Linked DNA regions of Homo sapiens: all the other regions are linked to region 2. The links come from fine-mapping of genetic effects on gene expression. A gene starts in region 2. Each other region holds a variant in brackets. All regions are shown on one strand. Distances are between the middles of the regions. Region 1 has its middle 33 kb from the start of CHRNA1. Region 2 holds the start of CHN1 (chimerin 1). Region 3 overlaps CHN1 (chimerin 1).

Region 1 (10,036 bases), 270 kb after region 2:
CACATTTTCTGGCCAACTTCAGCTCCTTATGTTCAAATCATTTGTGTCATTTTATTAAATAAATCAGCTGACAATTGTTTGCCTGCATGACTATTAACTGGGGAAGGACAGTAATTCCTTCCCCAGGATAATAAGGCACCATTATCTGCCTTTTCATTACAAAACAAATCTAAAACCAGGTGCCCTTTTCTTTTCCAGTGTCAAGTGACTTATTTGTCCCAGAAGTTTTTAGGGTGTTGCCAAGCTGATGGAGCAAAGAAACCATACAGCTCCCCTGGCACAAAATGGAGGGATGACAAGGAAAGCAAACCAAATGTAATCATAAAATTGGTTGGGCTTCTGTTCTCCCTTTAGTGGGAAACACTTAAGGTTTCTTGGTCTAGGCCGGGGACAGTGGCTCATGCCTGTAATCCTAGCACTTTGGGAGGCTGAGGCAGACGGGTCACGAGGTCAACAGATCAAGACCATCCTGGCCAACATGATGAAACCCCGCTCTACTAAAAATACAAAAATTAGCTGGGCATGACGGTGCGCACCTGTAGTCCCAGCTACTTGGGAGGCTGGGGCAGGAGAATCACTTGAACCTGGGAGGTGAAGGTTGCAGTGAGCCAAGATCACGCCACTGCACTCCAGCCTGGTGACAGAGTGAGAATCCGTCTCAAAAAAAAAGCTTTCTTGGTCTTGGTCTAAATCTTTTTTTCCCTGAAGACATGGCACCCTTTGTCATTTGTAGCTGGGCATGTGTTTGACATGGAAGGCTGCCTTGGGTCTAGAGAGGTGATTCAATTCACAGCAGATGGTGCTTCTCTTATATTGGCTTAGTGGCTTTCTAAGAAAATGAACATAATGCCTTACTTTATTCTTGATATTCTTAAACTTTATTTCTTTTTCTTTTCTTTCTTTTTTTTTGAGACGGAGTTTCGCTCTTGTTGCTCAGGCTAGAGTGCAACAGCATGATCTCAGCTCACTGCAACCTCCACCTCCTGGGTTCAAACGATTCTCCTGCCTCAGCCTCCCAAGTAGCAGGGGTTACAGGCATGTGCCACCACACCCGGCTAACTTTGTATTTTTAGTAGAGACGGGGTTTCCCCATGCTGGTCAGGCTGGTATTGAACTCCCGACCTCAGGTGATCTACCCGCCTCAGCCTCCCAAAGTGCCGGGATTACAGGCATAAGCCACTGTGCCTGGTCACTCTTAAACGTTATTTCTTTCTCAAACTTTAAAGTGCCCCAACCCTAATCTGGATACTTCAAAGGATTCTAGCTCAGATATGGGTTTGATTGTTAAATGCCCAAATGAAACTTCAGAAAATAACCAATTCATACCAAGATAAATTATAGTGTAATTTTTATTTTAGTTCAGAAAATCTAAGTGAAAGGTAGGGATATTCATCTTCCTACTTGAAAGAGTTAACTCAGTTCTAAAGTTGTATGATTACCTAGCCTAGTGAAAAGATTAAAATTTGGTGATAAAGCTGTACCTAGTGGAACTGAGGACTTATTTGGGTGGGGCGATTAGGCCATTTTCTAGACTGAACACATTTACCTGATATGGGGCTCTCTGTGAGCTCAGCCAGTTGATGGACCCTTGGCTGGGGTAGCCGAAGGAGGCTTACCTGAGGCAGTGATGCTTGAACTGAACTCTGAAAAATGAGTTGAGGTTAACAGGGCAAAGATGAGGAAGAGAATTGTCTTTGTTCAAGTGACTTGAGAGTATAAGGGTCCTGATATAGTAAAATGTACAGAACTTGCCTCCAAAGACCAAAGAAAGTCAGATAACTGGAATCAGAGTGAGGGGAAGGGTGGCATAGCCAACATGTGTCTGCAGAGATGCACAGGGCCTGGATTACCCAGAACCTTTGGATTAAAAAATTTAATCTCCAAAGAATGTACAAACAGCCAATAAGCACATGAAAAGATGCTCAATATCATTTCAGGGAAATACAAATCAAAACCACAGTGAGACACCACCGTCGCCCACTAAGATGGCTACAGTAAAAAAGAAGGATCGTAACAAGTGTCAACAAGAATGTGGAGAAATGAGAACCCTCATATGTTCCTGCAGGGAATGTGAAAGGGCAGTGCCACACTGGAAAAGAGTTTGGCAGTCCACAAACAGTTCAACAGAGTTACCATTTGACCTGGCCATTCCACTCCTATGTACATACCCAGGAGAAATGAAAACAAACACCTGTGTGTGGATGCTCAGAGCAGCATTACTCGTAATAGCCAAAAAAATGGAAATGAGCCAAAAGTCTAAGTGACAGACAGAGAAACAAAATGTGGTGTACCCATATGTACTAGTTTGCTAGGGCTGCTGTAACAAAGTGTACAACAACCTAAACAACAGAAATGTGTTGTCTCACAGCCCTGGAGGCTGGAAGTCTGAGGTGAGGTCAAGGCGTCACGGTGGTTGGTTCCTCTGTTCCAGCCCTCTTTCTTTGGCTTATAAATCTCTGTCTTTGTGTTCGAACAGCTGTCTCCCTGTATGCACCACTGTGTTGAAATTTTCCCTCTCTATAAGGACACCAGTTACTGGATTAGGACCTGCCCTACTTACCTCATTTTAGCATGATTATCTTGAAAGATCCGGTCATCACATAAGGCCACATTTTGAGGTGCTGGAGTTTAGGACATCAACATATGAATTTCTTGGGGACAAAATTCAACTCATAACACTGTACAGTGAAATATTATTCAGCCATGAAAACGAATGAAGTGTTGATCCATGCTACAACATGGCTGAACTCTGAAAATATTATCCTAAGTGAAAAAAGGCAGACACGAAAGGCCACATATTGTGTAATTCCCTTTATGTAGGATGTCCAGAATAGGCAAATATATCAAAGTGGCAAGGAGACTATTGGTTATCTAGGCTTGGGAATGTTGTTGGTGATAGCTAAAGGATACAGAAATGTGAAGGGTGGGGGTGAAAATGTTCTGAAGTTGATTTTGTGATGGATGCTAAAAACCATTGAGTTGTATATTTTAAAATGTATGGTACGTGAATTATATCTCAATAAAACTGTTAAAGGGGGAAAAGTTATATCAGAAAAAACTTCCAGAGCTTATTGATCAGAAAAAAAAAAACCTACATGTTTTCTTTAAAAATTAGAGCTGAGATATGTCCAGGCCCCAGGGCCCTCCTGTCTCAGATTGGCTGGCGCTGCAGGCTTTCACACACTTGATTTCTTCCATGGTGAGGTTTGTACAGAGTGCAACATATATTTGGACAGACGAGTAGCAAATTTGTTTCTCTAATTTGTCTTCCTTACATAGTTTCTGAGAGAAGGGTTCATTGGTAATCTTGTTGCCAGTTGGAAAAATTTTTATCCTTATCTGTCTGGAAAATTAAGTCTATTTTATCTTTTTCCTCAAGGTAATTTTGTCCAGGTTTGATAGCAGGTCACCTTTCTGGGGATTCCATGCTCCTAGTGACAGAAGGGGACCCAACAACTCTCCCTGCCCCGAGGATGTGTAAAGTGACACCAGACTTACTCTTCCGCTTTAATGTTAAATAAAAAAGAAGCTGAGCTATGATTTTGTAAGATACAACCAAAATGGAGACTAGAAGGAGATTGTGCAAGGATGGTTCTGCCCTAAACTGTCTGAGAAAGGGAGAGAAATGCTTCCACCAGCAGGCACAGCACTTGTGGGAATAAACGGGAAGGTTCGTGCTTGTGCTGAGTGCGGTCTGGGGAGTAATAGACATTTTCACGAGAGGCTGCAGGATGGGGAGAGACACTTCAGGCCAGAGTTGGGCAGAGCTTATCCTGGCTTAACTGGGGGCAGGAGGTGTCCAGAAGCATAGGGAGGTTTTTGTCAACTAAGGAACAGTGCTGATGCGGCAAGAACGGGAACAGGGCAGGGCATGGAACCCAGAGGGAAGACGGGGGTGATCCCCGACTTCAGGTGGAGTGACAGTGGGCAGGCAGTCGCAGTCCTGTCAAGGCCAAGGGTATTTGGAGGGGCCTGTGGTTCTGTAGTCTCCCACTGTCTACCTAGGAGGTGGCTGTAACCTAGCCCTGGGGGTAGAGAAAGGAACTTTAGGGGGGCTTCTCCATAGAGGTCAGGAGAGGAAGGGGCTTCAGGAGAAGATAAGCAGCAGCCTTGGCCCTTGGGGTTGGCCTGCCCTCATCTTCCCTCTGTTCACTTTCACATCTTCATGTTTGTAATGCAAAGTTCATTTGGAAACTTGTAGCCTCTTTTAGTTGGACTAAAGGCATCAAAGGAAGGGGGTATAGCTTTTGTTCACATTTAGGCTGCCATTCTACAGGACAGCTGGGCGTGAACGGAGTACTACCTGCAATAAGAAAGCGGGAGAGGAGAAATTCGGTAGGGGGTGGTTTGCACAGCAGCTCCCCCCAGACAAAGATTCTGCTGCCAGACGCAACCTTCCTATCATCAAGGACGGAAAACTGAGGCTGGAGAAATTCTTTACAAACAAACCTTGTTATACCATCTTCCCGAACACATGTCTACCCAATTAGCTCCCT[C/A]GCCCAAGTCCCTTTGTCTTTCCTCATTTTCACAACTTACTATGCTTTGTCCAATTCAGTACATAAGTAACAGATTCTAACGGCTTCTTTGGGATTTCATTTCCGTATGAGGGCTCCTGTGCCACATAAAACTTGTATTAAGTGAATTTGTATGTTTTTCTTCTGTTGATCTATCTTATATCAATTTAATTCTTGAGTCCAGCCAGGACCCCAAGGGGATGGAGGTGCAGTTCTGCCTCCCCTACAGTTTCTGGTGACAAGGGAGGGACCCTAAAAGGCAGGGATGCCCACTAGCTCTGCAGCTTGGAGATGGGACTGGGAAGACTGACAAAAGATGGTAGAAAGTAGGAAATCTCACCCAGTCAGCTCTTAGATCTCTGTCTGTAGTGGCCATTCGAGAAAGGGAGGTAAACATTGTTCGTCGTCTTTTCCTTTCCAATTCAGATTGGTAGGAGAAAACATTTATAAGAATTAATTTTTCAAATTGTGACTCTTGTGAATTTGGTTCTGAGTACCCATTGGTTATAGATCACAGCCTCCCAGGAATGGTCCTTGTTTTCCTTGTCTCTGTCTTTTGTGTAGTTTGTCATAAGGAGGAAAATCATAAGATTTGGCCTTCATCTTGTTTTATGTCTTGAGAGCTTAGCTCGGGAACCAGTGAGGATATTCTCTGTGGTCTTTGCCAGCAGAAGTCGCACGTTGTCAGGCTTGCTTCAGGCGGCTAGCCAACTGGCTAGGAGTCCAGAACCAAAGTATCTCTTTGTCCCACTGTGCCAGCTCTTAGGGGAGTTTGTCTTAATTGTCTCAACTTCATTGCCTTGTTTTTAAAAAGGTCTGGCCGTTCTTAGGATATTCGGAGCAATTTGGATGCCAAGGCGGACAGTGTGCTTTTGCACCCTCTCTTGGAGGCACTTCTTGAGCCCATGGTTAAGTGATAAAAGGCTTCTTGGTTTTAAGCCATGAAAAGGCTTGTTGGTTTTGAGTCACAATTGAAATAGGTATACTTCTAAAAATTTGGACTTTTGTATCTAAAAGGGTTTTATTGTTGTTGTTGTTTTTTTTTTTTTTTTTTTTTTTTTTGAGAGACGGAATCTCGCTCTGTTGCCCAGGCTGGAGTAGAGTGGCACTATCTTGGCTTACTGCAACCTCCACCTCCCGGGTTCAAGCGATTCTCCTGCCTCAGTGTCCCAAGTAGCTGGGACTACAGGCATGCGCCACCAAGCCCAGCTAATTTTTGTATTTTTTAGTAGAGACGGGGTTTCACTATATGTTGTTCCAGGCTGGTCTGGAACTCCTGATCTCGGGCGATCCACCCGCCTTGGCCTCCCAAAGTGCTGGGACTACAGGCGTGAGCCACCGCGCCCAGCCAGTTGTTTGTTTTTAAAGAGTGCTCTCATCCTAAGCTGTCCTATTGGGTACCTATGGGAAAATCAAATTAAACGACACAAAATAATTTAATGGCTACCCTTAGCGATTCCCTTAGCAAGATTAAAGAACACAATCAGACTTAAAACAAAAATTCAATCCACACCGCTATAAATTTTCCCTGGGTGGTGAGACTGCAAAAGGCACTTAAGTCACCAAAGCCCGGGACTTGGCAGGAGGCCCCAGCGTGGAGGCTGCAGCTCATGCTGACCAGGAAGGCCCGGAGCATCTCACGGTCATGAAAGGGCCTCCGCCCTCACGCAGGAGGTCCCCGGAGGCAGGTCTGGAACTCCGTCCAGTCCTCAGAGTGGCAGTGCACTAGCGACCCTGACTACGAGCTCCAGGAACAGGCGAAACCTGCCGCACTCAGCTCCTAGGGGCCCCAATTCTGACAAAGGGAGCCTGCAGCACTCTGTGTAGGATCCTTAAAGTCTTTGATGGGCTTAGAGCTAGAACCAACCAACCAGAGAGGAGAAAGAAAACGGATTCAAAGACAGGAAATACAATCGGCTAAAAGCAGCGTTTAATAGCCGCGTCCTGGCTAGGGAAGGGAAGGCACCAATGCGAGGCCTGCGTGGCTGAGTGGCGTCACCTTGCCCTTCCCGTGTAATGGGACCAAGGAAGAAGCACAGACCTACTGCCCGGGGCTCCCGCCCTCCACAGCCCCTCCCCTCCGGGTTTCCCAGCGCGGGAGCTATGGGGCAAGTGCACTGCCTCGCCGCTCCACACTCGCTTGAACGCGTAAGAAATCCTCGTCAGACTCAGCTCCGGGCTGGGAGGGCTTGCGGAGGCAGCGGCGCAGCAAGCTGGCCCCAGCCCGGGTGGCAGTTCGCACCCACGCACGTCCAGCCGGGGTCACCACCTGGAAGCGCTGCATCCCATCACCTGCGTCGGGTCCTTCCAGTGCCCACCGATTCCACTGCCCAGTTACGGGGAGGATTGTACGGGGGGTGGGGAGGGACACACAGCACCTCACGCACGCCGAGGGCACCAGGACCCTCTAGCAGCGACGCGCCTCAAGTCGCTGCAGAAGCTGCAGAAGGTACATCTAGCCCTGTCTGCATGGGCTCCTTCGGCGGAAGGGAACATCTCACACTCCAACCCGAGCAAATCTAGCGCTCCTGCCAACACCGCCCGCCGCAACAGCAACGAATTCATCCATCCCAGATTCGCCACCAGGGTCCGACGGTTCTGTCCCCGCGGGCCTTACCACTTGGCTTGCGGTGTTGACGCTGGACTGTCCGAAGGCTTTTGGCAAAGTTGCTTCCCAAGCATGTTTACTGTGGAAGGGTGAACAGCCACCAAAGACACCACCTGCAACACAAGTACATAGGAGGTTAAGAGCCACGTGTCTTTTCTGAATTAAGGGTAAAAGTGAGAGTTTCAGGAAGATGATGCTTATAATTAGAAACTCTTAACTTTCCCCCACTTTTACCTTTTTAGATCCATGGTTCAATTGCAAATACCTTCATTAAGCTTAATTGTCATTTTTTTTTAAAGGGAGGACAGGGGTTGCATTGGCAGGACTCACTTGTTCCTTCCCATAGGTCTGGTTCATTCCTCCCTGGGCACTTCCTGGCTGGGACTCGGGTGTCCCCGGCATATCACCGACTGCTCTGAGCCCCTCTGAGGCTGTCTACTAGGGAGAGTGCTGGTGGAACTGTGTGATCCAGAAATAACGCTCTTAAAAGTCTATGTTTTTATGATAATTACAGAATAGAATTTTAACATTGGAATTAACTTTTACTCCAACATTTCTCTATATAGTTGCAAAACTAGTTCAGAAATCTTAATGATCCACTTTTCCTTAAGAAGAATTGCATTTCTGTTTCCAGAAAGAATGCCTTGTGAAGAAGCTGCCCCCTCTTTAAATACACAGATCACAAAGCAAGTGGGAAAACAGATCTACATAGATACACAAATATTTATTCCTTCCACAAATGGAAGGATGCTGAGTGTTCTCCGTACCCGGCGCCATTCTTGGTCCTTGGGATATAACGATAAATCAAAATCAGGAAATATTTTATTTTACATAATAGATAATAAACTGAAGTAGAAATGATAAAATTTTTTAAATGGCATTAGAGGGCAGAGAGGAAATAAACAAGGAAATCTGTAAAATAGGTTGTGGCACCTTGGATAATGAGGCAGGAGGCAGGGTGGTTGGGAAAAGCCCTGGGAGGAGAACTGTGAGTGGAACCCGGATGGAGTCTAGCAGCAGGCACAGACCGGGAGGCCAGTGAAGCTGGGAAATGCCCGACACCCTTGGGTGGAGAACAAGGTAGACTGAAGAACAAGACAGATTTTCAGGTCATTACAACACCAGGAAAGGAGAAATCCCTGTTCCTGTCAAGCTTCCGAACCACTCTGATCTCTCTACACAAGACCAGCCCTGGCCGGGCGCGGTGCCTCACACCTGTAATCCTAGCACTTTGGGAGGCCAAGGCAGGTGGATAACCTGAGGTCAGGAGTTCGAGACCGGCCTGGCTAACATGGTGAAACCCTGTCTCTACTAAAAATACAAAAATTAGCCGGGTGTGGTGGCAGGCGCCTGTAATTCCAGCTACTTTCGGAGGCTGAGGCAGGAGAATCGCTTGAACCCAAGAGGTGGAGGTTGCAGTGAGCCGAGATGGCGCCATTGCATTCCAGCCTGGGTAACAAGAGCGAAACTCCATCTCAAAACACACACACGCACGCACACACACACCACCACCACCACCAACAAACCAGCCTTTTCCAGGAACACCCACCTGTTGCTGCGGGGGAGGATGGTTCTCAAGGCTTCCTCCCACAAAGGTTAACACCAGGACAACATTTTCCTTCATTTCCACCAATTCCATCATAATAACTTCCAAATAATAAGACATTCAAATACATTATCTTCAATTTAGCTCAATCTGAACTTTCATATTGGGGCCCTTTGCAACCCATGCATTTTAAAGAAGTCTATTGCTTTTTATGCATTTTTTAAGCAATAGGCTTCTTTAAAATGCATTAAATAATGAATTTAGCTGCTACACAGGAACACTGAATAATTTTTCTTAATAACCTCAGTTGTATGAACCTGACATATTTTCAGAAAAAAAATAATAATAACCTCAGTTGACCAAGAAAGATAAGAAGTTACTAGAAAGATATTCACTTTTTAATTCAACTAAGTAAATATCAATATTTTTACCATCGAATACCAAAATATATTTAAATTATTTTCTATAACTAAAATAAGATTATTTTCTATAACTAAAATAAGATTATCTGCTTTGGGATTTTTATTTTCTTCCAAAAAAATAAAGATCTGTATCTTAAGAAAAATAAGTATTTACTTTTTAATTGTTTCATATATGTGAAGACTTTTTGATTTTAGAACATTTAATTGACAACGATTGTATATATTTAAGGTATACAACATGATGATATACATTTAAACACATATATTGTGTAATTGTTACAGCACAGAGGTCCGGATCCAGACCTCAAGAGAGAGTTCTTGGATCTCGAGCAACAAAGAATTCAGAGCAAGTCCGCAGTGCAAAGTAAAAGCAAGTTTATTAAGAAAGTAAAATGGTGAAAGGACAGCTACTCCTTAGACAGAGTAGGGCCTTCCCGAAAGTAAGAGGAGGAACGCATGCACCCTATGTACAGTGCTGCTATATATATAGGATAAAAATAGATCTTGGGGAGATGTGCTCTGCTACGAGGGTTTGTGATAAAGGATTAATTTTCGTAATTACTACCTTTTGTAAGAATCAATATTATTATCTTTAAGGCAAAATTAAGAATGCCTTTGTTCTCCAGATATCGGGATATCTGGACACTCCCAAGTCTGGGTCTGTTTTAGTAAACATTATTAATCTGTTCCCTTTACTGTAAACATCCAGAGGCCAGGAATGCCTGATTTTCTGGGAATGCAGCCCAGCCAATCTCAGCCTCATTTTCCTAGCCCTCACTCAAAATGGAGTCGCTCTGGTTCGAAAGCCCCTGACATAATGATTACTAGTGAAAGCCATTTTTAAAAACAAACGTAAAGTTACTTTGCAGTGAGCAATTTAAAATACAGTTAGTCAAATAGACTTCACATTCAGATTCATGTACAGATGAGTAAATAGTAAGTTTCC
Region 2 (10,036 bases):
CAGCCTGGTCAACATGGTGAAACCAATTTCTACTAAAAAATACAAAAAGTTAACCAGGTGTGGTGGCTCATGCCTGTAATCCCAGCTACTCAGGAGGCTGAGGCAGGAGAATCACTTGAACCTGGGAGGCAGAGATTGCAGTCAGCTCTGAGATTACTGCACTCCAGCCTGGGTGACACAGTGAAACTCCGTCTAAAAAAAAAAAAACAAAAAACCAAACAGACCAAATAGCTGGATACAGTGGCTCATGCCTGCAATCACAGCACTTTGGGGAGGCTGAGAGGAGTGGATTGCTTGAGCTCAGGAGTTCCAGACCAGCCTGGGCAACATGGCAAACCCTGTCTCTACTAAAAATACAAAAATTAGCCGAGTGTGGTGGCATGCACCTGTGGTTCCAGCTACTCCAGAGGCTGGGGTAGGAGGATTGCTAGAGCCCACGAACTCAAGGCTGCAGGGAGCTGAGATTGTGCCACTGCATTCCAGCCTGGGTGACAGAGTGAGACCCTGTCTCAAAACAAAAACAAATCCACTTTAAACAAATTCACACAGTGGAAACAAACACTGTAACTAGTAACATAAATATGGGATAGAGAGAATGTCACATATTGTGAATATTTAAATAATTTTAACTTTCTTAATTTTAACTTTAGCAGAAGTATACTGTGTAACATTTTTCTCTTCACTAGCAAACTTCTGCACTATTTTGGGAACTGTGCTAATAGCACTGGTATTCCTAGTGTTTAAAGCTGTGTTGACATGACAAAGTACTATAATTTTAACTTGTTATTGTGAGGCAGAAACCGCCTCATTAATTTCTGCTTCATTGAAAACTGAGGAACAAATCAATGTTTACCAATGGGAATGAAGCTAAATGGGTAACAAAAAGAAATTCAAAACACTTGTGATAAGTCATTAGTTTAAAATGTAGGAAAACCATTTTAAAGGGTTGTCTAGGTTCTGTTTAGTCAACAAAACTTAAATAAAAATGAGAAATTGTTTTAGTAAATTTGAAATGGGTTGTTCAGTGCACACTTTTAATTTTAATCCTGTTAAACCAGAAAAAGGTTGCTTTCTACATGATTAATATAACATTATTAGTACAACACATTGCAGAAGAAATAGCAGTACCACTGGTTTGACAAAATATGACTTCTTTATTACATTAGGTATTTATGAACTTTAGATATAACAGCACTTTAAATATATTGAAGATTCAAATAAAAATGTCCTCTGTTTTATCCATAAACCAGTTAATTTAAAGATTTTAAAATATCACACAATGACAGATAAACCTAAAAGGGACATTAGAGATACCTTAGTACCATCCTTTCATTTTACAAAGGAGGAAGATAAGAACTAGAAACAGTAAAACATTTGTCTAAAAATCTGACAGCTAGTTAGTAACGAATAAACAAATCTGGCTCTTCTAAGCACTTGCATGTTAAGCACAAAATGAAATCATTGAATGAAAACATAAATATTTTGAGAAGTCAATTCATTCTTTGCCCTTCTTTTATAAACAATCTAAGTCACCACCCGTAATAATCACCTCCAAGCAGTTAACGCCCTTCCTTGCATTGACTCTGTAGCTGAAAGGCTGTGGCTTTATTTTCAGCTAAGTGAGAAAAGAAGCACATGCAATAGAATAGGAATAGCTCATTGAAAAAAATACGCTATTTTAAAAGCCAATACTATTTCCAAGACAGGCACTTTGATCAAGTATAGAGAGCATTTTGTTAGAGCATCAAACCATTTGGAAGTCAGTTGAAAGGAATGGCTCGTGGAAAGCAGGATGCTTTAAAGGGAAACATAGCAACATTCACACTGTTTTGTTCCAAATTGTACCTTAAAAACAGCTGTGTGTGTGTGTGTGTACGTGGGTGTGCGAGTAGAAAGGGGAGAGGAAAAGGATCTTCACTTGAGTTTAAGCAGGGTATTTCACTAGGATTCAGTTGTATTTGGCCAAACTAGTGAGTGGAAAGCTGGTCTAGTAACCAAAGGCCGGCTGTATGATGGGAGGGTAAATCTGAGTGCAGGGCAGCTCCTTTCTCTCTGTCTCACTCCCAGGACAACCCCTCAAGGGATGGAGAGAGCTACTAGCAAGCTGAGCTGCAGCACCAAAACCTTGATGCTCTAACAGAGCTTAACAAAGAGGAGAGAAAGGCATTGTTTCTCTTTTAGCATGATGGGACACATAGTTCTGAGTAGAAGGGCATGTTAATAAAAACTCTTTGAGACAAAATGCAACTTCCCAAACTCTATGCAGAATGGCTAAGGACAAAATACTCTCGTTATTTTGCTTCTAATACTAAACAGATTTTTCTTTTGAAATTCAAACCATGCAACCTCTAAATTGATGCGGGATGTGGGTAGGGAAGGTGGTCGGTGAGAACACCAGAAATCTAAGATTTTCCCATTGGTTCTGCTACTAAATAGGTGAACACATTTGGGAAAATCTTTTTACGGGGAACTCAATTTTTTTACCTATAAATCATGGGAGTTTTGGTCTTTTCCTATTCAAAATTCAATGGTTCTATTCTGAAGGAAAATATTTTCCTTTAAATTATAAAGGCAAAAACTTTCTGAGATTACAAAAAACACTTCCAGGGGCTCACCTAAGGTCCCTGAATAGCCCATAATCCCCTTGAAATTATGTGAAAAATTTCCGGTGAATGTGTGTATGTATGCAAGCACTTTTCTAAGAGGAGGGACAGTATTTTCATTAGAGCCTCAAAAGGAAATTTGGTCCAAAAATGTTGAAGACCACTAGTTGAAACAGTAAATGGAGTCTTCGGTTTCTGATTTATTTGGCTGCAGAGCAGATTAGCAGCAATCTTTATATGGTTATAAAATCTATCCCACAAAGCTTTCTTGAGTTTCTCATTTATTTTCATGAGCTGTGTGTTTGTAATTTTTTATGAGCAGAAAGGTTGTTCAAAATCAAGAGTCCATTTTCATGAAAGATTTTAAATTCTGGGGATTTTAAAGATGTATTTTGATTAGTGGCTAAAGAGAGCCATTTTACATCACAAAATTCCAAACATATAGCATCTTAAACACTTGCCCATTCATGTTGAATCATTTTAATATTTCTTTCTTCCTGAGTTAACTGACTTGAAACAAAAGGCTTGGCTCCTCCTTCCAACCTGCTTTTCTTCTGATGCTTAAGTCTGCTTTGAAATAATGATGGTGAATTAACTGTGGTTCCATTGGAAGTACTGTAGTAATCTCCCACTTTATCAGGATTCGATCTCTAAGATACATTAAATACAAGATATTTCTATAATATTCTTAAAGAATTATTTGAAAATGGGAGAGAAGACACTAGGGAACCTGAGGAACTAAGAGGAAAGACGCCTGTAGAAAGAAAGGAGAACCAAAGAGAAGATCTACATGATCAGATACCAAAATAGTATCAAATCCCTAAGCAGAGAAACAAGAAAAAAGAAGGAATTTCTTAAACAGGGAACACATATAGCAACTAGAGAAGAATGACTTTTTGAATACATTAAACGACAACGACGAAAAACATATAACCCAGCTTTTCAAGAACATCTTTTGGCTGACAATCTCAAGGCGTTGTATGGCTCCTCATGGCAGAGACAGAGGTGAGGAGACAACATCACAGAAAGGAGGACGTTGCCAGTGATTATCAGATAAATACAAGAAGCTCAGGGGAACAATCTTTTGTGGCAAATAAGTGCCAGTCAGTGACACATGCTGATTTTTTTTTCCTTGAGACAATATCAAAGAGGTATAATGTAAAGGGAAGAAAATCAGGTGTAAGCATTGGTCTTTTAACAAATTATCTTAGGTAATCTCAGATGCTTTTTAAGCGACTCCTTTTCCTAATGTGTGTCAATTTCATCAGAACTACTAGCAGCTCCTAAGTCCAAACGGAGAGGAATGCAGCTTTCAGTGCCTCTGTTCCTACCAGAGCCCTGCAGCTTCAGGTCACCGGCTCCAGCCACAGTGAGCCTGGAGGGCGCCAGGAGAAGAAATATGTTCTCACACGCACCAGGTCCCCAGATGACCCTGCCTGGGCGCTGCGTTCACTCAGCATCCTCCTGTGACTCTTCCTCTTTCGAGTAACAGCGTTTTTCTCCTCTCTGCGCCTCCTCAAATTCCATTCAAGAAAAAACCTGGGCTTTCAGCTAAAACGCACACCGGCCCCGCTCCATCCCGCTCCGGGCGGCCGCCTCCAGGGGGGCGCTGGTGGCTCCTCGCAGCCGCGGGAATGAGGGCGCACCCTCTTACCCCCGCGCGCGCCCGTTGCCATGGGAACGCACTCGACCGGGAAGCCCGAGGGAGAGGCGGGAGGCAGCGGCGCGGCCGAGCTCGTGGGAGACGCTATCGCAAGATGGCGTCTGCGAGGCCGCGGGATGCGGAGTGAGCGCGCCCCGCCGGGGGCTGTGCGAGGCTGCTGCTGCTCTCCCCGTCGCCGCCGCCGCCGCCGCCAGTGCGGCGCCGCCTCTCCGCCAGCCACTGCGCCGCGGCCAAGCCTCCTGCCTCGCAGGTACCTCCTCCCGCGCGCACGCTCCGCGCCTGATGGCAGCGACAAGTGCCGGCTCGCGGAGAGCTAGCGGGGCTCCCTGGGCCCGGTGCGCCCGACAATAACGCGTGAATAACTTTTTCTTGCAGCGGTCCCCCGCGTCCCGGCCTGCAGCCTCCCCGGGCGCCGGCGCCCCCAGCACGCCCCATCGGGCACCCCACTCTCTCCGAGGTGTGGGTGCGGCGGGCTGATGAGGTGATCCCTAGCCCGCCTGGGAGGAGCGCCTGGACTCGCGGGCGGCGGCGAGCGCCTTTACAATGGCCCTGACCCTGTTTGGTAAGTGCAGCCGTCTCCCCGCGCCGCCGCAGGTGGGCCGCGTCCCGGGGCTCGGGGGCGGGGGCCTGGGGGGCCTGGGCGCCCGGGGAGGGGGCGCGGCGCGTGGGGTCGGGGCGGGCCGGGGCCGCAGAGTTGGGGCGCCCGGGGCGCCGGCTTGCTCCCTCGCGCCTCTCCCATTGTTTCCTCTCCCGGCAGGGCCGATGGGCGTGTGCTCCCCTGGCCAATTCTCGGCTGGGAGGCTCAGAGGTCCTGGGTGTTTTGCAAACGCACAAAGATTCTCTAAGATGCCAACTTGGGAGTGAAGTTAACTGGTTGTTTTCAAACCTGCCTTTCCCGTCGGTAAATAAATCCTTGGAAAGTTTATTTATTTTGAACGAGGTATCTGTGAGTCCCCAGCCTCCTTGGAATTGCCAAATGCATGTGTTGCTTCCTGTTGGACTATTGGGGAATTTTTTTTTTGGACTCAGTATATTCCGTTGGAAATAAGTATGATTTGTGAACTGAATATGGGTTAAAATTGAAAATGTTTGCACTAACGAATGAGAGCAGACAGAATAAAGTTGGTTACCAGAAGATAACTGTAATCTCAGGAGACTGAGTATTCATTAAGAATGAAATGTTATTTTTGTGGTGTAATTACTGCAGCACTGTTGCTTTTGGTGGTTAAGACTTCAAGCTGTTTTTTTCTCAGTCTGCAATGACAATGGGTTGGGAAAAAGGACTGAAAAGATACATTCTTTCCTTTTACAAAACGACTATGGTACATACGTACCTGACTTTAAGAAAACTCAATATGTGAACATTAGACGTTCAAAGTATTCAGCTTTTTTGAAGAAGCAAAGTACAATGATATGTAATTGATAGCTACGAGAACAGCCTAAGTAAGTTATTCACAATATCAAGTTTCCAGTTCAGTTTTAATTATGTCATTTGATCAAACACGTTAGAGGTGTTACATACCTCAAATGCTTTTTGAGGTAAATACTTCCCAGTGAATTAAGCTGCTAGAATCAAAGTGTTACTTTTATTTAACTATCTTATTTTATAAATTAAACTTAGACCCAGAGAGGTTGTTTCCCAAAGTCACATGGCTCTTTTGTGGCAAAACTGAGCCTAGAATTCACTTCACCAGGCTTCAGTCTGGGACTGTGTTTACTGTGCCCAAGTGCATTACTAGAAGTGCCATTTCTTACTTGGTGATGATCCTCCATAGGTACTTTAAAAAAGTGTCTTCTTTTTCTGAAAAATAATAAAATTCTCGCTGTTTCTCAGTACCTTGTATCTAAGCATTATTTAATAGCAGCATTTTCCTTAAATGTGGACCTTTTTGGTACAAACATTTTCTTTCCTAAAGAGATATTTGGCATTTTCAAGGTGTGGTTTCAGAAGTAAGGTTTACAAGTCAACTTTTCAAATACTCGCATTCCTGACGAATAAAAAAGATAAATTGGGGTGAAAAATGCTCTTTTAAAAGGATTTCTAAATTCTAAATCTTTAACCACTGTGGTGAAGATGAGGAAGGGAAAAGCATGGAATGTGGCCTATAGAAGAAAGTATAAGAAATCACTCCCAGCCTTCAAAATGAATAATGTATCTTTAAAATTTTAAAGTCTACTTATGGGAAAATAGAATTCACTTCCCAAAATCCAGTTTGTTACAGTGTGAACGTTTCTGTGTTATAAAACAAAGCACTCTTGAGTGCAGAGGCTATTTGTTAAGTAGTGATAGAGCAGCAGCTGTTTTTAAAAGTGGTTGTACACCACTCATCAGTCATCTGGGATGTCTATTAAAAATGTAGATTCTTTTGCCCAAAGACATGGGGGAAGGGGATTTTAAAGTGACTCCCTTTGTGATTCTTATGCTCACTCAAGTTTGAGAACTGTTGTATTCAAGATAAATGCTAGGAGATTGGGTCAAACTCGCCCAATACAAAATAGCTTTTTGTGTATGTTGAGAGATGTACCTAAGGGTTAGAAGAAATGGATTTTATTTTAGATTTTACTACCTTTAACTAGTTGGTCTTAGTCAGAAGTGCCTCATGTCCCTTCATATTTACTCTTAATGACCAACTTAGAACAGAAGAGCAATGGAGCAATAAAGTTCTGTGAGATGGTAGTGAAAAGAGTTAGAGGCAGGGACCTAACCAGATCAACAGGATTTGTCAGAGCTCAGCAGAGTTTATACCTGAGGCTCCCCAGAGTAACGACTGCCAGGGCCCTATCTTTTGTATCTTGGTTGATTAGTTAGTGCAGTCCAGCAGTAGAGTCTAGACTAGTTATTTGCTTTGTGTTTTACATTTTCTTTCCATTCAGGCTTTTTATAAATTTAAGAAATGTTCTTTTTATAGGGAGTTGGTGACTTAGTTTTAAAAAGTGGAGCCTCTAACATTACCTGATTTTGTATTTGCATACATTTAATTTTTTTCACCTGTTAAGTATATTATAGGAACTCGAATACTTGTTAAATTAAGCTGAATAGTTAAGACTGTTTTATCTCTCATCCTCACTGTTAATCACCTTTGCTGCTTAACATATTTTTAATGCATATTAGTTTTATTTTGGGATAGAAGAACCAGACCCCAATCTTGAAAGATTTTACAGTCTCATTTGGGAATTGAAAATGTGCATTTTTGAAAGCTTAAGAATTTGCACCCGTTTTTCTTCTCCTTTCAAATGAACTCACATCTCATTATCAGCTTCGATATAGTTTTTAAATCCCCCAATTTCAAAAATTATCCAAATGTATTACAGACTCTGCTCGCTCACCTTGCTCATTTTTTCAGCAAACATCTGTCACAGCGTACAAGAGACATGGTCCTCTAGTGGCACTTCAGAGTCTTTTCTAGAACTATAGCGAATGCACCTAATTCACTAATTACCTAATTCCGTATAGTGAGTGGCACTTAACTATTAACTAATTCCGTATAGGCTTTGTGAGAACTTCCTTAGTAGAGAGCACATGTTTTCTAGTAATTACTGGGATAAAAGGAAAGTCTCAGATCCTTGAATATGGGAATTTGTGGCTGGTGTACCTGACAAAATGTCCTGATTGGCCACACCAATAGAGCCTTAGTTGGCAGAGCTGGGTGAATAAGCATTCTGCCAGCTCTTGCCTTGGCAGGAATCTCTGTCATTTATAGCTTAATGGGGCTGTGGTTTATAGCCCAGACCAACTGATGCGATTGGGAACTCAGTTACCGTCGGCTGGGCTGGCTGAACCTTGAATAATGGTCCTCTATCTGGGTAGAGTCACCTCTGGCGTTGCTGCTCACCCTCCTTGCCCCTTATTCTTGTTACCATTTAGTCACCATCTTACTACCATAGATCACTTCTAATAATGCTTATGATTTTGCTATAATTTTGTACCATCTTTCCTCAGACCCTTCTGCCATGGAAACCTTTTCATTATCTCACTTTATTCAGCATCTGTCACTAACCTGACACACCTACCTATGGACATCTTTTGGAGCAATTAAATAGCAATGGCATATTCTTTGTGATGTAGTTAGGAAATTTTCTGATTTCCCATAGGAATGTCCTGAAATTAAAATGTATTTTTTAAAAGACAAGTCAATTGAAGATTTTCATATTTGACTGAAAGCTAATTTTATAGGAAGTTCCCACTTGACTATACTCTCTGCTGACATTTTTATTTTTCAGTTGTCCAAAGAATACAAGAGGCTGGCCCAGTGGTGTGAGCTCATCTGCCTTTTTCAGAATATATTCTTTTCAGCTGTCATTTAAATCATCATCCTTATTTAAATTTTTGTCCATGTTCCTTCTTGTACTGGTGTCAAAACTTAATATTTTAGTCAGACATGGTGGCAATGTGCCTGTAGTCCCTGCTACTCAGGAGGTTGAGGCAAGAGAACTGCTTGAGTTCAGAAGTTCAAGACTGTAGTTGCACTATGATTGTGCCTGTGAATAGCCACTGCACTCCAGTCTGGACAACACAGCAAGACCCTGTCTCTAAAAGAGTAAAAATAAGAAAACCCAGCTGGGCATGGTGGCTCACATCTGTAATGGGTGGCCCATGCCTCCTGGCACTTTGGGGGGCCTAGGCTGGAGGATCACTTGAGCTCAGGAGTTTGAGACCAGCCTGAACAACACAGGGAGATACCATCTCTACAGAAAATAATAATAATAATAAAGCCTGGGTGCAGTGGTTCATGCCTGTAATACCAGCATTTTGGGAGGCCGAGGTGGGTGGATCATTTGAGGTCAGGAGTTCGAGACCAGCCTGGCCAACATGGTGAATCCCCACCTTTACTAAAAATACAAATATTAGCCAAGTGTGGTGGCAGGTGTCTGTAGTCCCAGCTACTTGGGAGGGTGACACAGGAGAATCCCATGAACCCAGGAGGTAGAGGTTACAGTGAGCTGAGATTGTGTCACTGCACTCCAGCCTGGGAGACAGAGCGAGATTTTGTCTCAAAACAAACAAACAAAAAAAATCAGGCCAGGTGTGGTGGATCATGCCTGTAATCTCAGTACTTTGAGAGGCTAAGGTGGATGATCACTTGAGGTCGGGAGTTCAAGACCATGGTTAACATAGCAAAACCATGTCTCTACTAAAAATACAAAAATTAGCCTGGCATGGTGGCACATGCTTGTAGTCCCAGCTACTCTGGAGGCTGAAGCAGGAGAATCGCTTGAACCCCAGGAGGTAGAGGTTGCAGTGAGCTGAGATCACACCACTGCACTCTAGCCTGGGCAACAGAGTGAGACTCCATCTCAAAAAAAAAAAAAAAAAAAAATTAGCCAGGTGTGGTGATGCATGCCTGTGGTTCTAATATTTTAGCTTTAAAGTTTGTCTTTTAATGTGTGGAGAGCTGGTACTATGTAAGAACAATAAAATAATTATAGTTGTTATAACTCTGATAGTCACCATCTGTGTACACTGTAGAGGAATGTTGGCACTGCAGTCTTTTGAGTCACATCTGTCTCTGCAGGTAACCATCCTATAAGCAGCCTAATTTTTGAACATAGAAGACAGTGATATGTATAATTATACAAATTTGACATATTTGTCAATAAAGATTTTAGTTTCTTTTAGATTACTTTTTCTCAACCTTTTAAAAAATCCTCCCTCTCCCGGCCTTTTAGGCCTGTTTTCTAATTGTTCTCCCCATGAAAATTTAATACCAGAGATATACTATGTATCTGTTTATGTACTGTAGATATATCTGCTTTCTGCATAACGTAAATA
Region 3 (10,036 bases), 170 kb after region 2:
TCTAACATTAAAAATAAAACTCAGGCACCCTTCCAGCAATGATTGTGCCATGCATTCTGAGGCTTTCTGGGTAAAATGATAAATAAGATCCAGCCTTTGCCCTCAGGAGCTTGCTTATTATATGCACCACCTTGGGTCAATTGCTTAATCTCTCTCTACATCGGAAAAATTGAGTTCCCAGTACATGTAGATACATGGTAGCCACTATTTTTGTTACTACAAATACCCCTAAGTGGGTTTTTTTTTTTTTCTGAATCTATACTGACATTTATTTATACTTAAGGGTTCATCTGAATCCTCTTATTCCTGTCCAGTTGCAGAGATTATGATGTGATTGAAAACCTTAGCATGATCGTGGGGACTGTGCCTAGTTGTCAGGCAGAGTTAGATGTTGCATAAGAATAGCTACATTTGGCCAGGCACAGTGGCTCATGCCTGTAATCCCAGCACTTTGGGAGGCCGAGGTGGGCAGATCGAAAGGTCAGGAGATTGAGAACATCTTAGCCAATATGGGGAAACCCTGTCTCTACTAAAAATACAAAATTAGCCGGGTGTGGTGGCACGTGACTGTAGTCCCAGCTCCTCTGGAGGCTGAGGCAGGACAATCGCTTGAACCCAGGAGGCAGAGGTTGCAGTGAGCCGAGATCACATCACTGAACTCCAGCCTGGGCAACAACAGCAAAACTCCGTCTCAAAAATAAATAAATAAATAAATAAATAATAAAAGCTACATTTTTCATGCACTACAGAATGCAGTGAAATCCTCTATATTTATTTTACTCTTTTCAAATTAAACTGTTAAATGTTTCATCTGGTTTGTTGCTTAATTCAGATAGCTCTATAAAATAAAATCAAGAGCAGATACAATATTATAATAACGACAGAAGCTAGGCTACTTAGGCAAATTAAGTAATTAAAAGAAAACAACATTAAGAATTATAGGGAGTAGATACTAAAAATATGAGTTTAATTTTTTAAGGTAGTCTTGAATTAGTTGTTGATTTTCATTTCAGGTACTTGCAGTCTGCATGTAAATGAAAGATATAAGATATTGTATTAATAGATTTAGTGTTGCCAAGATAACAGGCAAACAGTGAATCCTGAAATGTGAATTGATATTGCAATTAAAATAACACTGTAACATGAACCTTATAATAGTTAATAAAATTACTGATTCAAGACCTACTAGGAAAAAGAGATCATACTGAACCCAGCAATCCTAGCCAACAGACTGGACACTGTGCTGTCTGGTGAACTGAAGGGCGGCAGTGGCCGACACTCTTGCTGAGGGTAGTCTTTCCTTTCCTCCCGAGGACGTGGGCAAATCCAAGCCCCCTTTGGTCTTCATTTGGTTCACATTTATAATAAAATTAATACAAAATGAATGAACAAATAATAATTTTAATATAAACTGTGAAGTTTTAAACCACATGGTCTAAGGGTTCTCTTACAGCTCTAAAATTCTCGGACTTAATTATAGTGTATTGTGAACCATTAGATTTATTACAAGTATTCCATTTTTCATTAAAATTTTATTGAAGTTCCTATGGAGACAAATTTTCAATACGTTGATTTGAAAAGGAACTAAAATTAACTATATATGAAAGAATATTTAAAACTTTATATTAACAGCAGTGAAATGTCGTATTCAGAAACAGTGTCTATCACCTCTTTCATATTATCCCCACCAACCCTCACACCACCACCTTGCCTCCCTCCATTCTTCCTTGCCCTTTCCCGATGTCTAGTAAAATGCCTGTAACTAGCAGATGCTCAAGAAGCATTTGATAAATGACTAAATGAGTACACAGTGTGACATGCGGGGGACCTTTGGTTGTTGTTACTTGAAAACCTCTTCTCATGACAGCAGGAAATTAACACAAAAATAGAGTCTTCTATTGGTCTTAAGATCTGTATTGTTACAATGTTTTCTTTTAATTAGATTTATGTGAGTTTTCAAAATGAAATAAAACCCAAGATACCATCATGTTATCTGATATTGACTAGAGAATCTGTGTACATATTTTAAATGCTCAGGAATTTGAATAGTGTTTTGAATTAATGGTATTGTAAATGAAGGTAAATGCAATATTACAAAAGGGAAATGACAATCTAGAATGCTTCATTATGCTTCTGCAATAATGTCTCTCATCATTGCCTCTTCTGTGGATATGAACAAGGAGTGTCCAACATAAACATTTTAAAGGAATAATGTGAATTATTCCTTTAAATAATTTTACTTGGAAATTTAAATAATTTTAAATAATTTCTTACTTGGAATTTCTCCAAGAAAGAAATTAAGTGGAATTATATGTATTTCTGTTGTACACATGCACACACACACACTCTTTCCCCAGTTCTCAATGTGGGCCACTTGCAAGAGAAGACAAAAATAGCGCAGATCAGTATGTAGCATAGGTTCTGTCTGCCTAAGGCAATCGGACATGTAGAGGACTGATGAAGAGAAACTAGGAAATTGGTCAGAATCATCTTTAAAGTCCCTGTAAACATTGTATTTCTGTTGCTGCCTATTATAGTACATATCTGATGCTGCAGAAGCCAAAAATGACAGCCACTGCTCTGCTTTCCACTTCTGCCAATGCTGCTGGTGAGGAGGACCACAGAACCTGTGCACTGCCCCTCAGCACGGTGGCCCTCTCAACCTCACCCTGCCTGGCCTTATGGTTTGTCATGCTGGCTGGGGAACTGGTATGACACCCCGAGTACAAGTCATTCAGATCCTTAAGGTTATCAGAAAGGTTACTACCTGCCACTAATAATCCGAAAAGAAACATTTCACAAAGTTCTTGTTGGTTTGCACATAGTTGCATATACTTCTTTGTAGCTATCTTATGGGACTAGAGAATTTAAATTGCTATACTTCAGAGAAACCCATATTATTCTCACAGACCATGGCCCTTTATTCTGGAGATGTTTTATAATCTGTCTTTATTCCCCAAGTTCCAAATTTGGCATCTCTGTATTATACTGCCTCGCTGACACAAATTACTTATCAGTATGTTTTTTGTCTCTTCCATTCAAGCTTTCTACTATATCTTTTTTAAATGTTTTAAATGAGGAAGACATGTTTTGTCTTCCTCATTCCTTTCTAGCCTCTTGTTCCATGTCCATGTGGGCCCCTGAAAAGATTGGCTCTTTCAATATATGTATGAAAAATTGCTGTTGAACATACTAACTCAATCTTTTCAAAGAAAAATCCCTTAACAGTGTCGAAACATCTTGCCCACAGTATTCTCTAACCTAAAATAAAACTCTCCAGGCTTTCCTAGCTCCGTTTCCTCCTTGCTCATCCCTCAAGTATTTATCAAGCAGCTGTTGTGTGCAGACCACTCTGTTAGACATGGGAGGAGACACAGTAATATGTAATGTACGGTCCTTGACTGCTGGATATATGCAAACTGACTGAAAAGAAAGCAAATGTCAATATAATGAGAATGATGAGAAGGTCATAGGAAGGGTTTGGGGCCAGGCACAGTGGCTCATGCCTGTAATCCCTACACTTTGGGAGGCCAAGTCAGGAGGATTGCTTGAGCCCAGGAGTTTAAGACCAGCCTGGGCAACATAGAGAGACCTTGTCTTTACAAAAAATTTAAAACATTAGCTGGGTATGATATTGTGCACCTGTGGTTTCAGCTACTTAGGAGGCTGAGGTGAGATCACTTGAGCCAGGAGATAGAGGTTGCAGTGAGCTGTGAACACACCACTGCACTCCAGCCTGGGAGACAGAGCAGGACCCCATCTCAAAAAAAAAAAAAAAAAAAAAAAAAGAATGGTTTTATGCATAAACACTGGCAAAATACCTTTAATTTTATGTGCCACATATGTATAATAATGCCATATTCCTCATGGTTCAATATTTCATATACAAATACAAATGACATCTCTGCCTGAAACAGAATGACAGTCAGAAGTGAGTATGCAGAGTAAAATTCGACAGAGGGTAGTTTAAACTTTGGAGAGAGATTTTTTTTTGTGTGTGATAAGAACATGTCACATGAGATCTACCCTCTTAAATATTTAAGTAAGGCCAGGTGCAGTGGCTTATGCCTATAATCCCAGCACTTTGAGAGGCTGAGATAGGCAGATCACTTGAGCCTAGGAGTTTGAGACCAGCTTAGGCAACATGGCAAAACTCTGTTTCTATCAAAAATACAAAACTTAGCTGGGCGTGGTGGCACATGCCTGTAGTCCTAGCTACTCAAAAGGCTGAGGTGAGAGGATCACTGGGGCCCAGGAAATCGAGGCTGCTGTGAGCTGTGATTGTGCCACTGCAATATGGCCTGGACGATAGAGCAAGACCCTATGTCAAAAAAAAAAAAAAAAATCTTTAAGTGCACAACACAGTATTGTTAAGTAAAGGCATCGTGTTGCTCACAAGTTTCTAGAAGATACTCAATCTATTATAACTGAAACTTTATATGCATTGAACAGCAGCCACTCTTCTATTCTGAGTTTGATTATTATAGATACCTCATATAAGTGGAATCATGCAATATTTGTCCTTCTGTGACTGACTTATTTCACTTAACATCATGTCCTCCAGGTTCATCTCATGGTGTCATATACGGCAGGATTTCCTTTATTAAGGCTGAATAAATATTCTATTGTATATATATACCATACTTTCTTTAAGGATATAAACGCATAGGAAAAACACGCAATTTTTAAAAGTCACCTCTTACAGTTAATAACAATGTATAAGAATACATTGAGAATAAAATCTCTCTGAGAGTAGATTTTAAGTGTTCTCACTACAAAAAATATGTGAGGTAATGCTTACATTAATTAGCTCAATTTAGCCATTTCACAATGTATTTGCATTTCAAAACATGTTGTACACAGTAAATATAATTTTTATTTATCAATTAAAAATGAAATAATTGTCACTTCTTCTAAATTTTTTTTTTTTTTTAAGACAGAGTCTCACTCTGTCGCCGAGGCTGGAGTGCAGTGGCACAATCTCAGCTCACTGCAACTTCCGCCTCCTGGGTTCAAGCTATTCTCCTGTCTCAGCCTCCCTAGTAGCTGGGATTACAGGTGCCCACCACCAAACACACACCACATTTTTGTGTTTTTAATAGAGATGGGGTTTCGCCATGTTGGTCAGGCTGGTCTTGAACTCCTGACCTCAGGTGATCTGCCCACCTCAGCCTCCCAAAGTGCTGGGATTACAGGCATGAACCACTGCACCTGGCCTGTAAAATTCTTAATATTTCAGTTTACATGTTC[A/C]TACAACAGTCCAACCTTCAGGAGTTGGTTTTTCCCCCGTTTGAGACATGTTGGTACTCTAAAGCCCCTTCTCGTAATCTCTTCTATCTTATATTCACTCACCCCTTCCAGATTTAACTGAGGATTGGGTCTTAATTCTCTTTTGCTTATTTTGTAAGTTAATAGGAGAAATACCATATGTAATATTTCATGTCTCTGTGTTTCAAGCCTTGTTTAACTGACAAAATGTGCTATCATACTTCATCTTTTTTGTGACCCACTGTGTCAACATTCCCTATAGGACAAAGTCTTATTAAGAGTGAGGTTTGGCTGGGCGCAGTGGCTCATTCCTGTAATCCCAGCACTTTGGGAGGCCGAGGTGGGTGGATCACCTGAGGTCAGGAGTTCAAGACCAGCCTGACCAACATGGAGAAACCTTGTCTCTACTAAAAATACAAAATTAGCCGGGCGTGATGGTGCATGCCTGTAATCCCAGCTACTTGGGAGGCTGAGGCAGAAGAATTGCTTAAACCTGGGAGGCGGAGGTTGCAATGAGCCAAGATCGTGCCATTGCACTCCAGCCTGGGCAACAAGAGCAAACTCCATCTCAAAAAAGAAAAAAAAAAGAGTGAGGTTTACCATGACTGTTAGTAGGACGGTTAAAGCATGTACCTAAAGAATACGTACATGTCTTATCATCTTGCTTCAATTATTGTCTATGTTGTCAAGTACTCCATATCTCAGTAAACTTAGTATCATTAGTTGGTGTTCATCATTTGTTATGTAATAGTGCATGACACAAAAATATTGTTGCCTCCATCAAATAGCCCAAAGGATAGAAAGTAGAAAAAGAGATGTGTATATACACCAAAGGAAGTGGAATATAGGTTAAAAAATAAATGAAAACGTGACAAGCAATGGTTTTTCTTTTTAAATATTTTTACTACACAAAAACTTCTGGTAGCTGAAAACCACTGTAAATTATTTTTTTGACAAGCAACATACTAATAGATTTTTTTTTCCAGTTTTCTAATCCCTCTTCTTAAATTATCTTGAGATTCTTCTGGTTACAAAATAGGAAAACTATAAAGGAAAAGGCCAGTAGCCCAACAGTTGAAGAACCACCATATCATCAGCTGCTTATTTTCTATATTTTTATGTTCTTTGGGGAGCAAAAATAGAACTGGCGTGTTTTGTAAGGTATTATCCAGACTTAAAAATTAAAAGAACACATCTATTTTTAGGTCATGGTAGTCAGAGGCTTGTTGTCACATTAGGTGATATCCTCCAGTCTTTTGTATTAGAGGTGACGTTTTGGCTATCCATGTGAATGGATTTGCCCAAATCAGGCCTAAAATATCATATTCTCTGTTTCTCTTTTTAGAACTACCTTTGTTTGGAGCTTCACCTCTTGCATGTGACACAACCCTGATCTCTGCTTGTGCTCTGCCTGGTACACATGCCCTTGTTCTTAAAGAGAAGTCCATCTCTAGGGGGTGTGCTAATTTGCTTTGATGGTTGCTGTTACAGCTCATTACTCCGCAATTGTATTACTTCAGTGTGTTTTTCTTAATCTGTTACCATGAATATATTTACTATTTGATGGAACAGTTGAGAGACTTTTACTGCAAGTGTCAGAAAACCCAGCCCACACTGGACTAAGAAAAAAGGGAATTTGTTGTGTCACATAGTAGAAAAAGTCCAGCATTAATTGAAGGTATCCTTTGACTTAGGGGCTTAAAATGCCACCAGAACCCTGTTTCCCAACTCTTTCTTCATTTTTAGGCTCCCTCTGGTGACAAGATGACTGTCAAAGTCTTCAGCTCTGTATCCTCCCAGATTCTAGTCAGCCTCAAAGACAGACTGTTTGAAAAAAGGTTCTGGGCATGGCAGTCATTGACCAATTATATCATATGCTCATCTCTGCACCAGTAGCTCCAGTCAGGAGAAGGGAATGTACTGGCTTAGATCCAGGTCTTCCCCTGGAGCTGGGGAAGAGGTCAGCTCTATACGATTCACATGGATTGGGAGCTTTTATGAAAAATAAGAACTTGTTCTGTGTACTGAAAAATAAGCAGTGCCCTCTACAAGATTAAATGTCAAATGAAATCACCTATTGCAAGATCTTAGTGAACAGCCTACTGAATATGACAGTGTTAATGTAACACTTTGCTGGGTGAGATGTGCTCATGAAACATGGATGACAAAAGAATCCTGAAGCAGTTCAGTCTGTATAAAGGGGGTTGAAAATTACTGATTAAGTTAATCTTATTTTACATGTGTAGAAACTGAAGCCTATTAAAGTCACTGGTTGGCGTTCACATGAACGAATCAGTAGAACCAATAATATAAACTAAATTTCTACTTTTGGTCATGATGGAAGAACTACATTTACCTTCCCATCTTAAACAACTAGCAAACCAGAAAAAGTATATAAAAACCACAGCCAGACATTGATCAATAGGTAGTATAGAACTGTGACAACTGAAAGAAGGAACACAAACAAAATGATTCTTAAGATCACTCTTACTGCTTGGAGGCAGTTTCCAGGCCACAGCACATGGAGGGGGAGTCCAAGCAGAGTCTTGTGGTCTACCCCAGTGAAGGACAAAGAGATTAGGGTGGGGTCGTGGGGGAGGTGCAAAGCAGCTCAAATGTATGGGGCAGAGACTGCCTGAGGAGACAGAGCTGCACACAAAAGGCATTCTGGAGATCTGCCGAGGAGCCTTCTTGAGTCTTTTACTGATGACTTATCTGCATATATGTGGGAAGAAACTATTGGGAAACCACCAGAAAGCAATAGGCTAAACAATGGCTGAAACTCACTGAAGACTCATTCTGCCCACTAGTAGAAACAGAAAGAAGTCACAACACATGGAGCATTGGTTAAGACTCTTCAAGAGGGTATCATCTTAGTACTGTGACCAAAATTAACAGTAGACTAAAGGTTGTAGTGAGGAAAGAAATGGAAGCTGTCTTTAAAAATCCAAATTGAATCTCTAGAGGTGAAAAGTATATCTGAAATGAAAAATACACTGGATTATATTAACAGCATATTAGATACCACAGAAGAAAAGATTGGTAAACCAGAAAATACAATACAAAATATCCAAGATGAAGAACAGAGAATTAAAAAAAAAAAAAAAATGAACACAACATCAGTGACCAGTGGGACAATAGCAAGCAGTCTTAACATAAGTGTAATTTGGGTCACAGAAGGAACAGTGATGGGAAACCAGGAGACAGAGCAATTATTTAAAGCTATAGTGACCAAAAATTGTATAAATTTGATGAAAAGTCACAGATCCAAAAATGCAGTGAACACTAAACACTAAACAGAAAAAAATATGGTGAAAGCAACATCAAGGCATATCATAAATTGCTGAAAACCAGTGTTAAGGAGAAAATTGTAAAAGCAGCCAGAGAGAGTGAGAAAATTTGGGGAAAGAACAGTTTTCACTGTAAAGTGATACCGAAGGCCCCTGGCTTACAATGGCTCAGCTTATGATTTTTGACCTTATGATGGTCTGAAAGCAATATTCATTCAGTACAGTCCTGGATTTAGGATTGGATTACATCTGGATAAATTCATCATAAATTGAAAATATCAAAAGTAGAAACCCCACTCTCAACTTATGATATTTTCAACTTATGGTGGGTTTATTGACATGTAACCCCATCATAAGTCAAGGAGAATCCATACTTTGCCTCAGCCTAAGAATTGAGGTTGTTCATCCCACACGTAATGTACAGAGGATGTCTCTCAGATCTAGAAATTATACATACGTTTGGTTTCTCTTAAGTTTTATTTTCACATTTCAGCTTCATAATGTGTTTATAGTTTTGTGGTTTTATAGAATCTTAAATGTGCATACTCACACTCAAGAATACAATGCACATTTGTTTAAAAGAATATAAATTATTTTTATACTACTATCTTCTCTGTTAATATCTTCGAGGATTATTTTAGTTAGGACAGATATGTCAACTTTGAGGAAACAAATTATTTTCCTTTTTCACTGGTACTCACACATCTTACAAAGTTTTTTTTAAAAGCAGTTGGGGGGATGCACATTACATAAAAATGAATAAAGAATGGCAGCAAAATTCTCATCAAAAACTATGCAAGACAATGGAGTGACATCTTCAAAGGACTGAAGGAAAAGAAATCTATTAACCTTGAATCCTATATTTAGCAAATATATCTTTCAGAGATGAAGAGAAAATATTTATTTTTTTAAACAAACAAAAGCTGAGTGAATTCATCCCTAGGAGACTGGTACTACAAGAATATTACAGTAACTTTTTAAGAAAGAAAATGATACCAGGTGGAAATTTAGAACTACACAAAGGAATAAAGAACACTAGAAGTAATAGTAAGCATGGGTAACTTTAAAAGATATTTTTCCTGACTTAGTATCTTTAAAAGATAGTTGACTCTTTAAGGCAAAAATGGTAATATATTATGTAGTTTATACAAGCAAAATGTATGACAACAGTAATGTAGAGTAGAGGATGGGGGAAGTGGAAGTATATTCATGTATAGGATTCTTGGGCATTACATAAAGTGGTATACTATTTGGAGGTAGACTGTAAGTTAAAGGTGTATATTGTAGACTGGGCATGGTGGCTCACGCCTGTAATTCCAGCACTCTGGAAGGCTGAGGCAGGAGGACAGTTTGAGCCCTGGGGTTTGAGACTAGCCTGAGGCACGTGGCAAGACTCCATCTCTATTTAGAAAAGAAAAGAGAAAGAGACAAAATTAGCTGGGTGTGGTGGCACATGCCTGTGGTTCCCACTGCGTAAG

Evidence for each region. PIP is the estimated chance that this variant, and not a neighbour inherited with it, causes the effect. A credible set is the group of variants that fine-mapping cannot tell apart.
Region 1: its variant is the best candidate, but not a certain one, in a credible set for the expression of CHN1 in whole blood (INTERVAL, PIP 0.57).
Region 3: its variant is the best candidate, but not a certain one, in a credible set for the expression of CHN1 in whole blood (INTERVAL, PIP 0.80).

What each region holds. Positions count from the first base shown.
Region 1 is chr2:174,726,920-174,736,955 of GRCh38, reverse strand. No RefSeq gene overlaps it. Among named protein-coding and RNA genes, the nearest start is that of CHRNA1, 33 kb to the left of the region's middle. RefSeq lists a silencer at 6,501-6,795 and an enhancer at 6,394-7,133. The variant C/A (reference allele first, on the strand shown) is at 4,497.
Region 2 is chr2:174,999,686-175,009,721 of GRCh38, reverse strand. It overlaps CHN1 (chimerin 1), which reads left to right and starts at 4,341. Exons shown (of 13, transcript NM_001822.7): 1 at 4,341-4,828. The coding sequence starts at 4,810. RefSeq lists a silencer at 4,581-4,640 and an enhancer at 4,625-5,171.
Region 3 is chr2:174,833,914-174,843,949 of GRCh38, reverse strand. The region is part of intron 7 of CHN1 (chimerin 1); the gene reads left to right. Among named protein-coding and RNA genes, the nearest start is that of CHRNA1, 74 kb to the right of the region's middle. The variant A/C (reference allele first, on the strand shown) is at 5,251.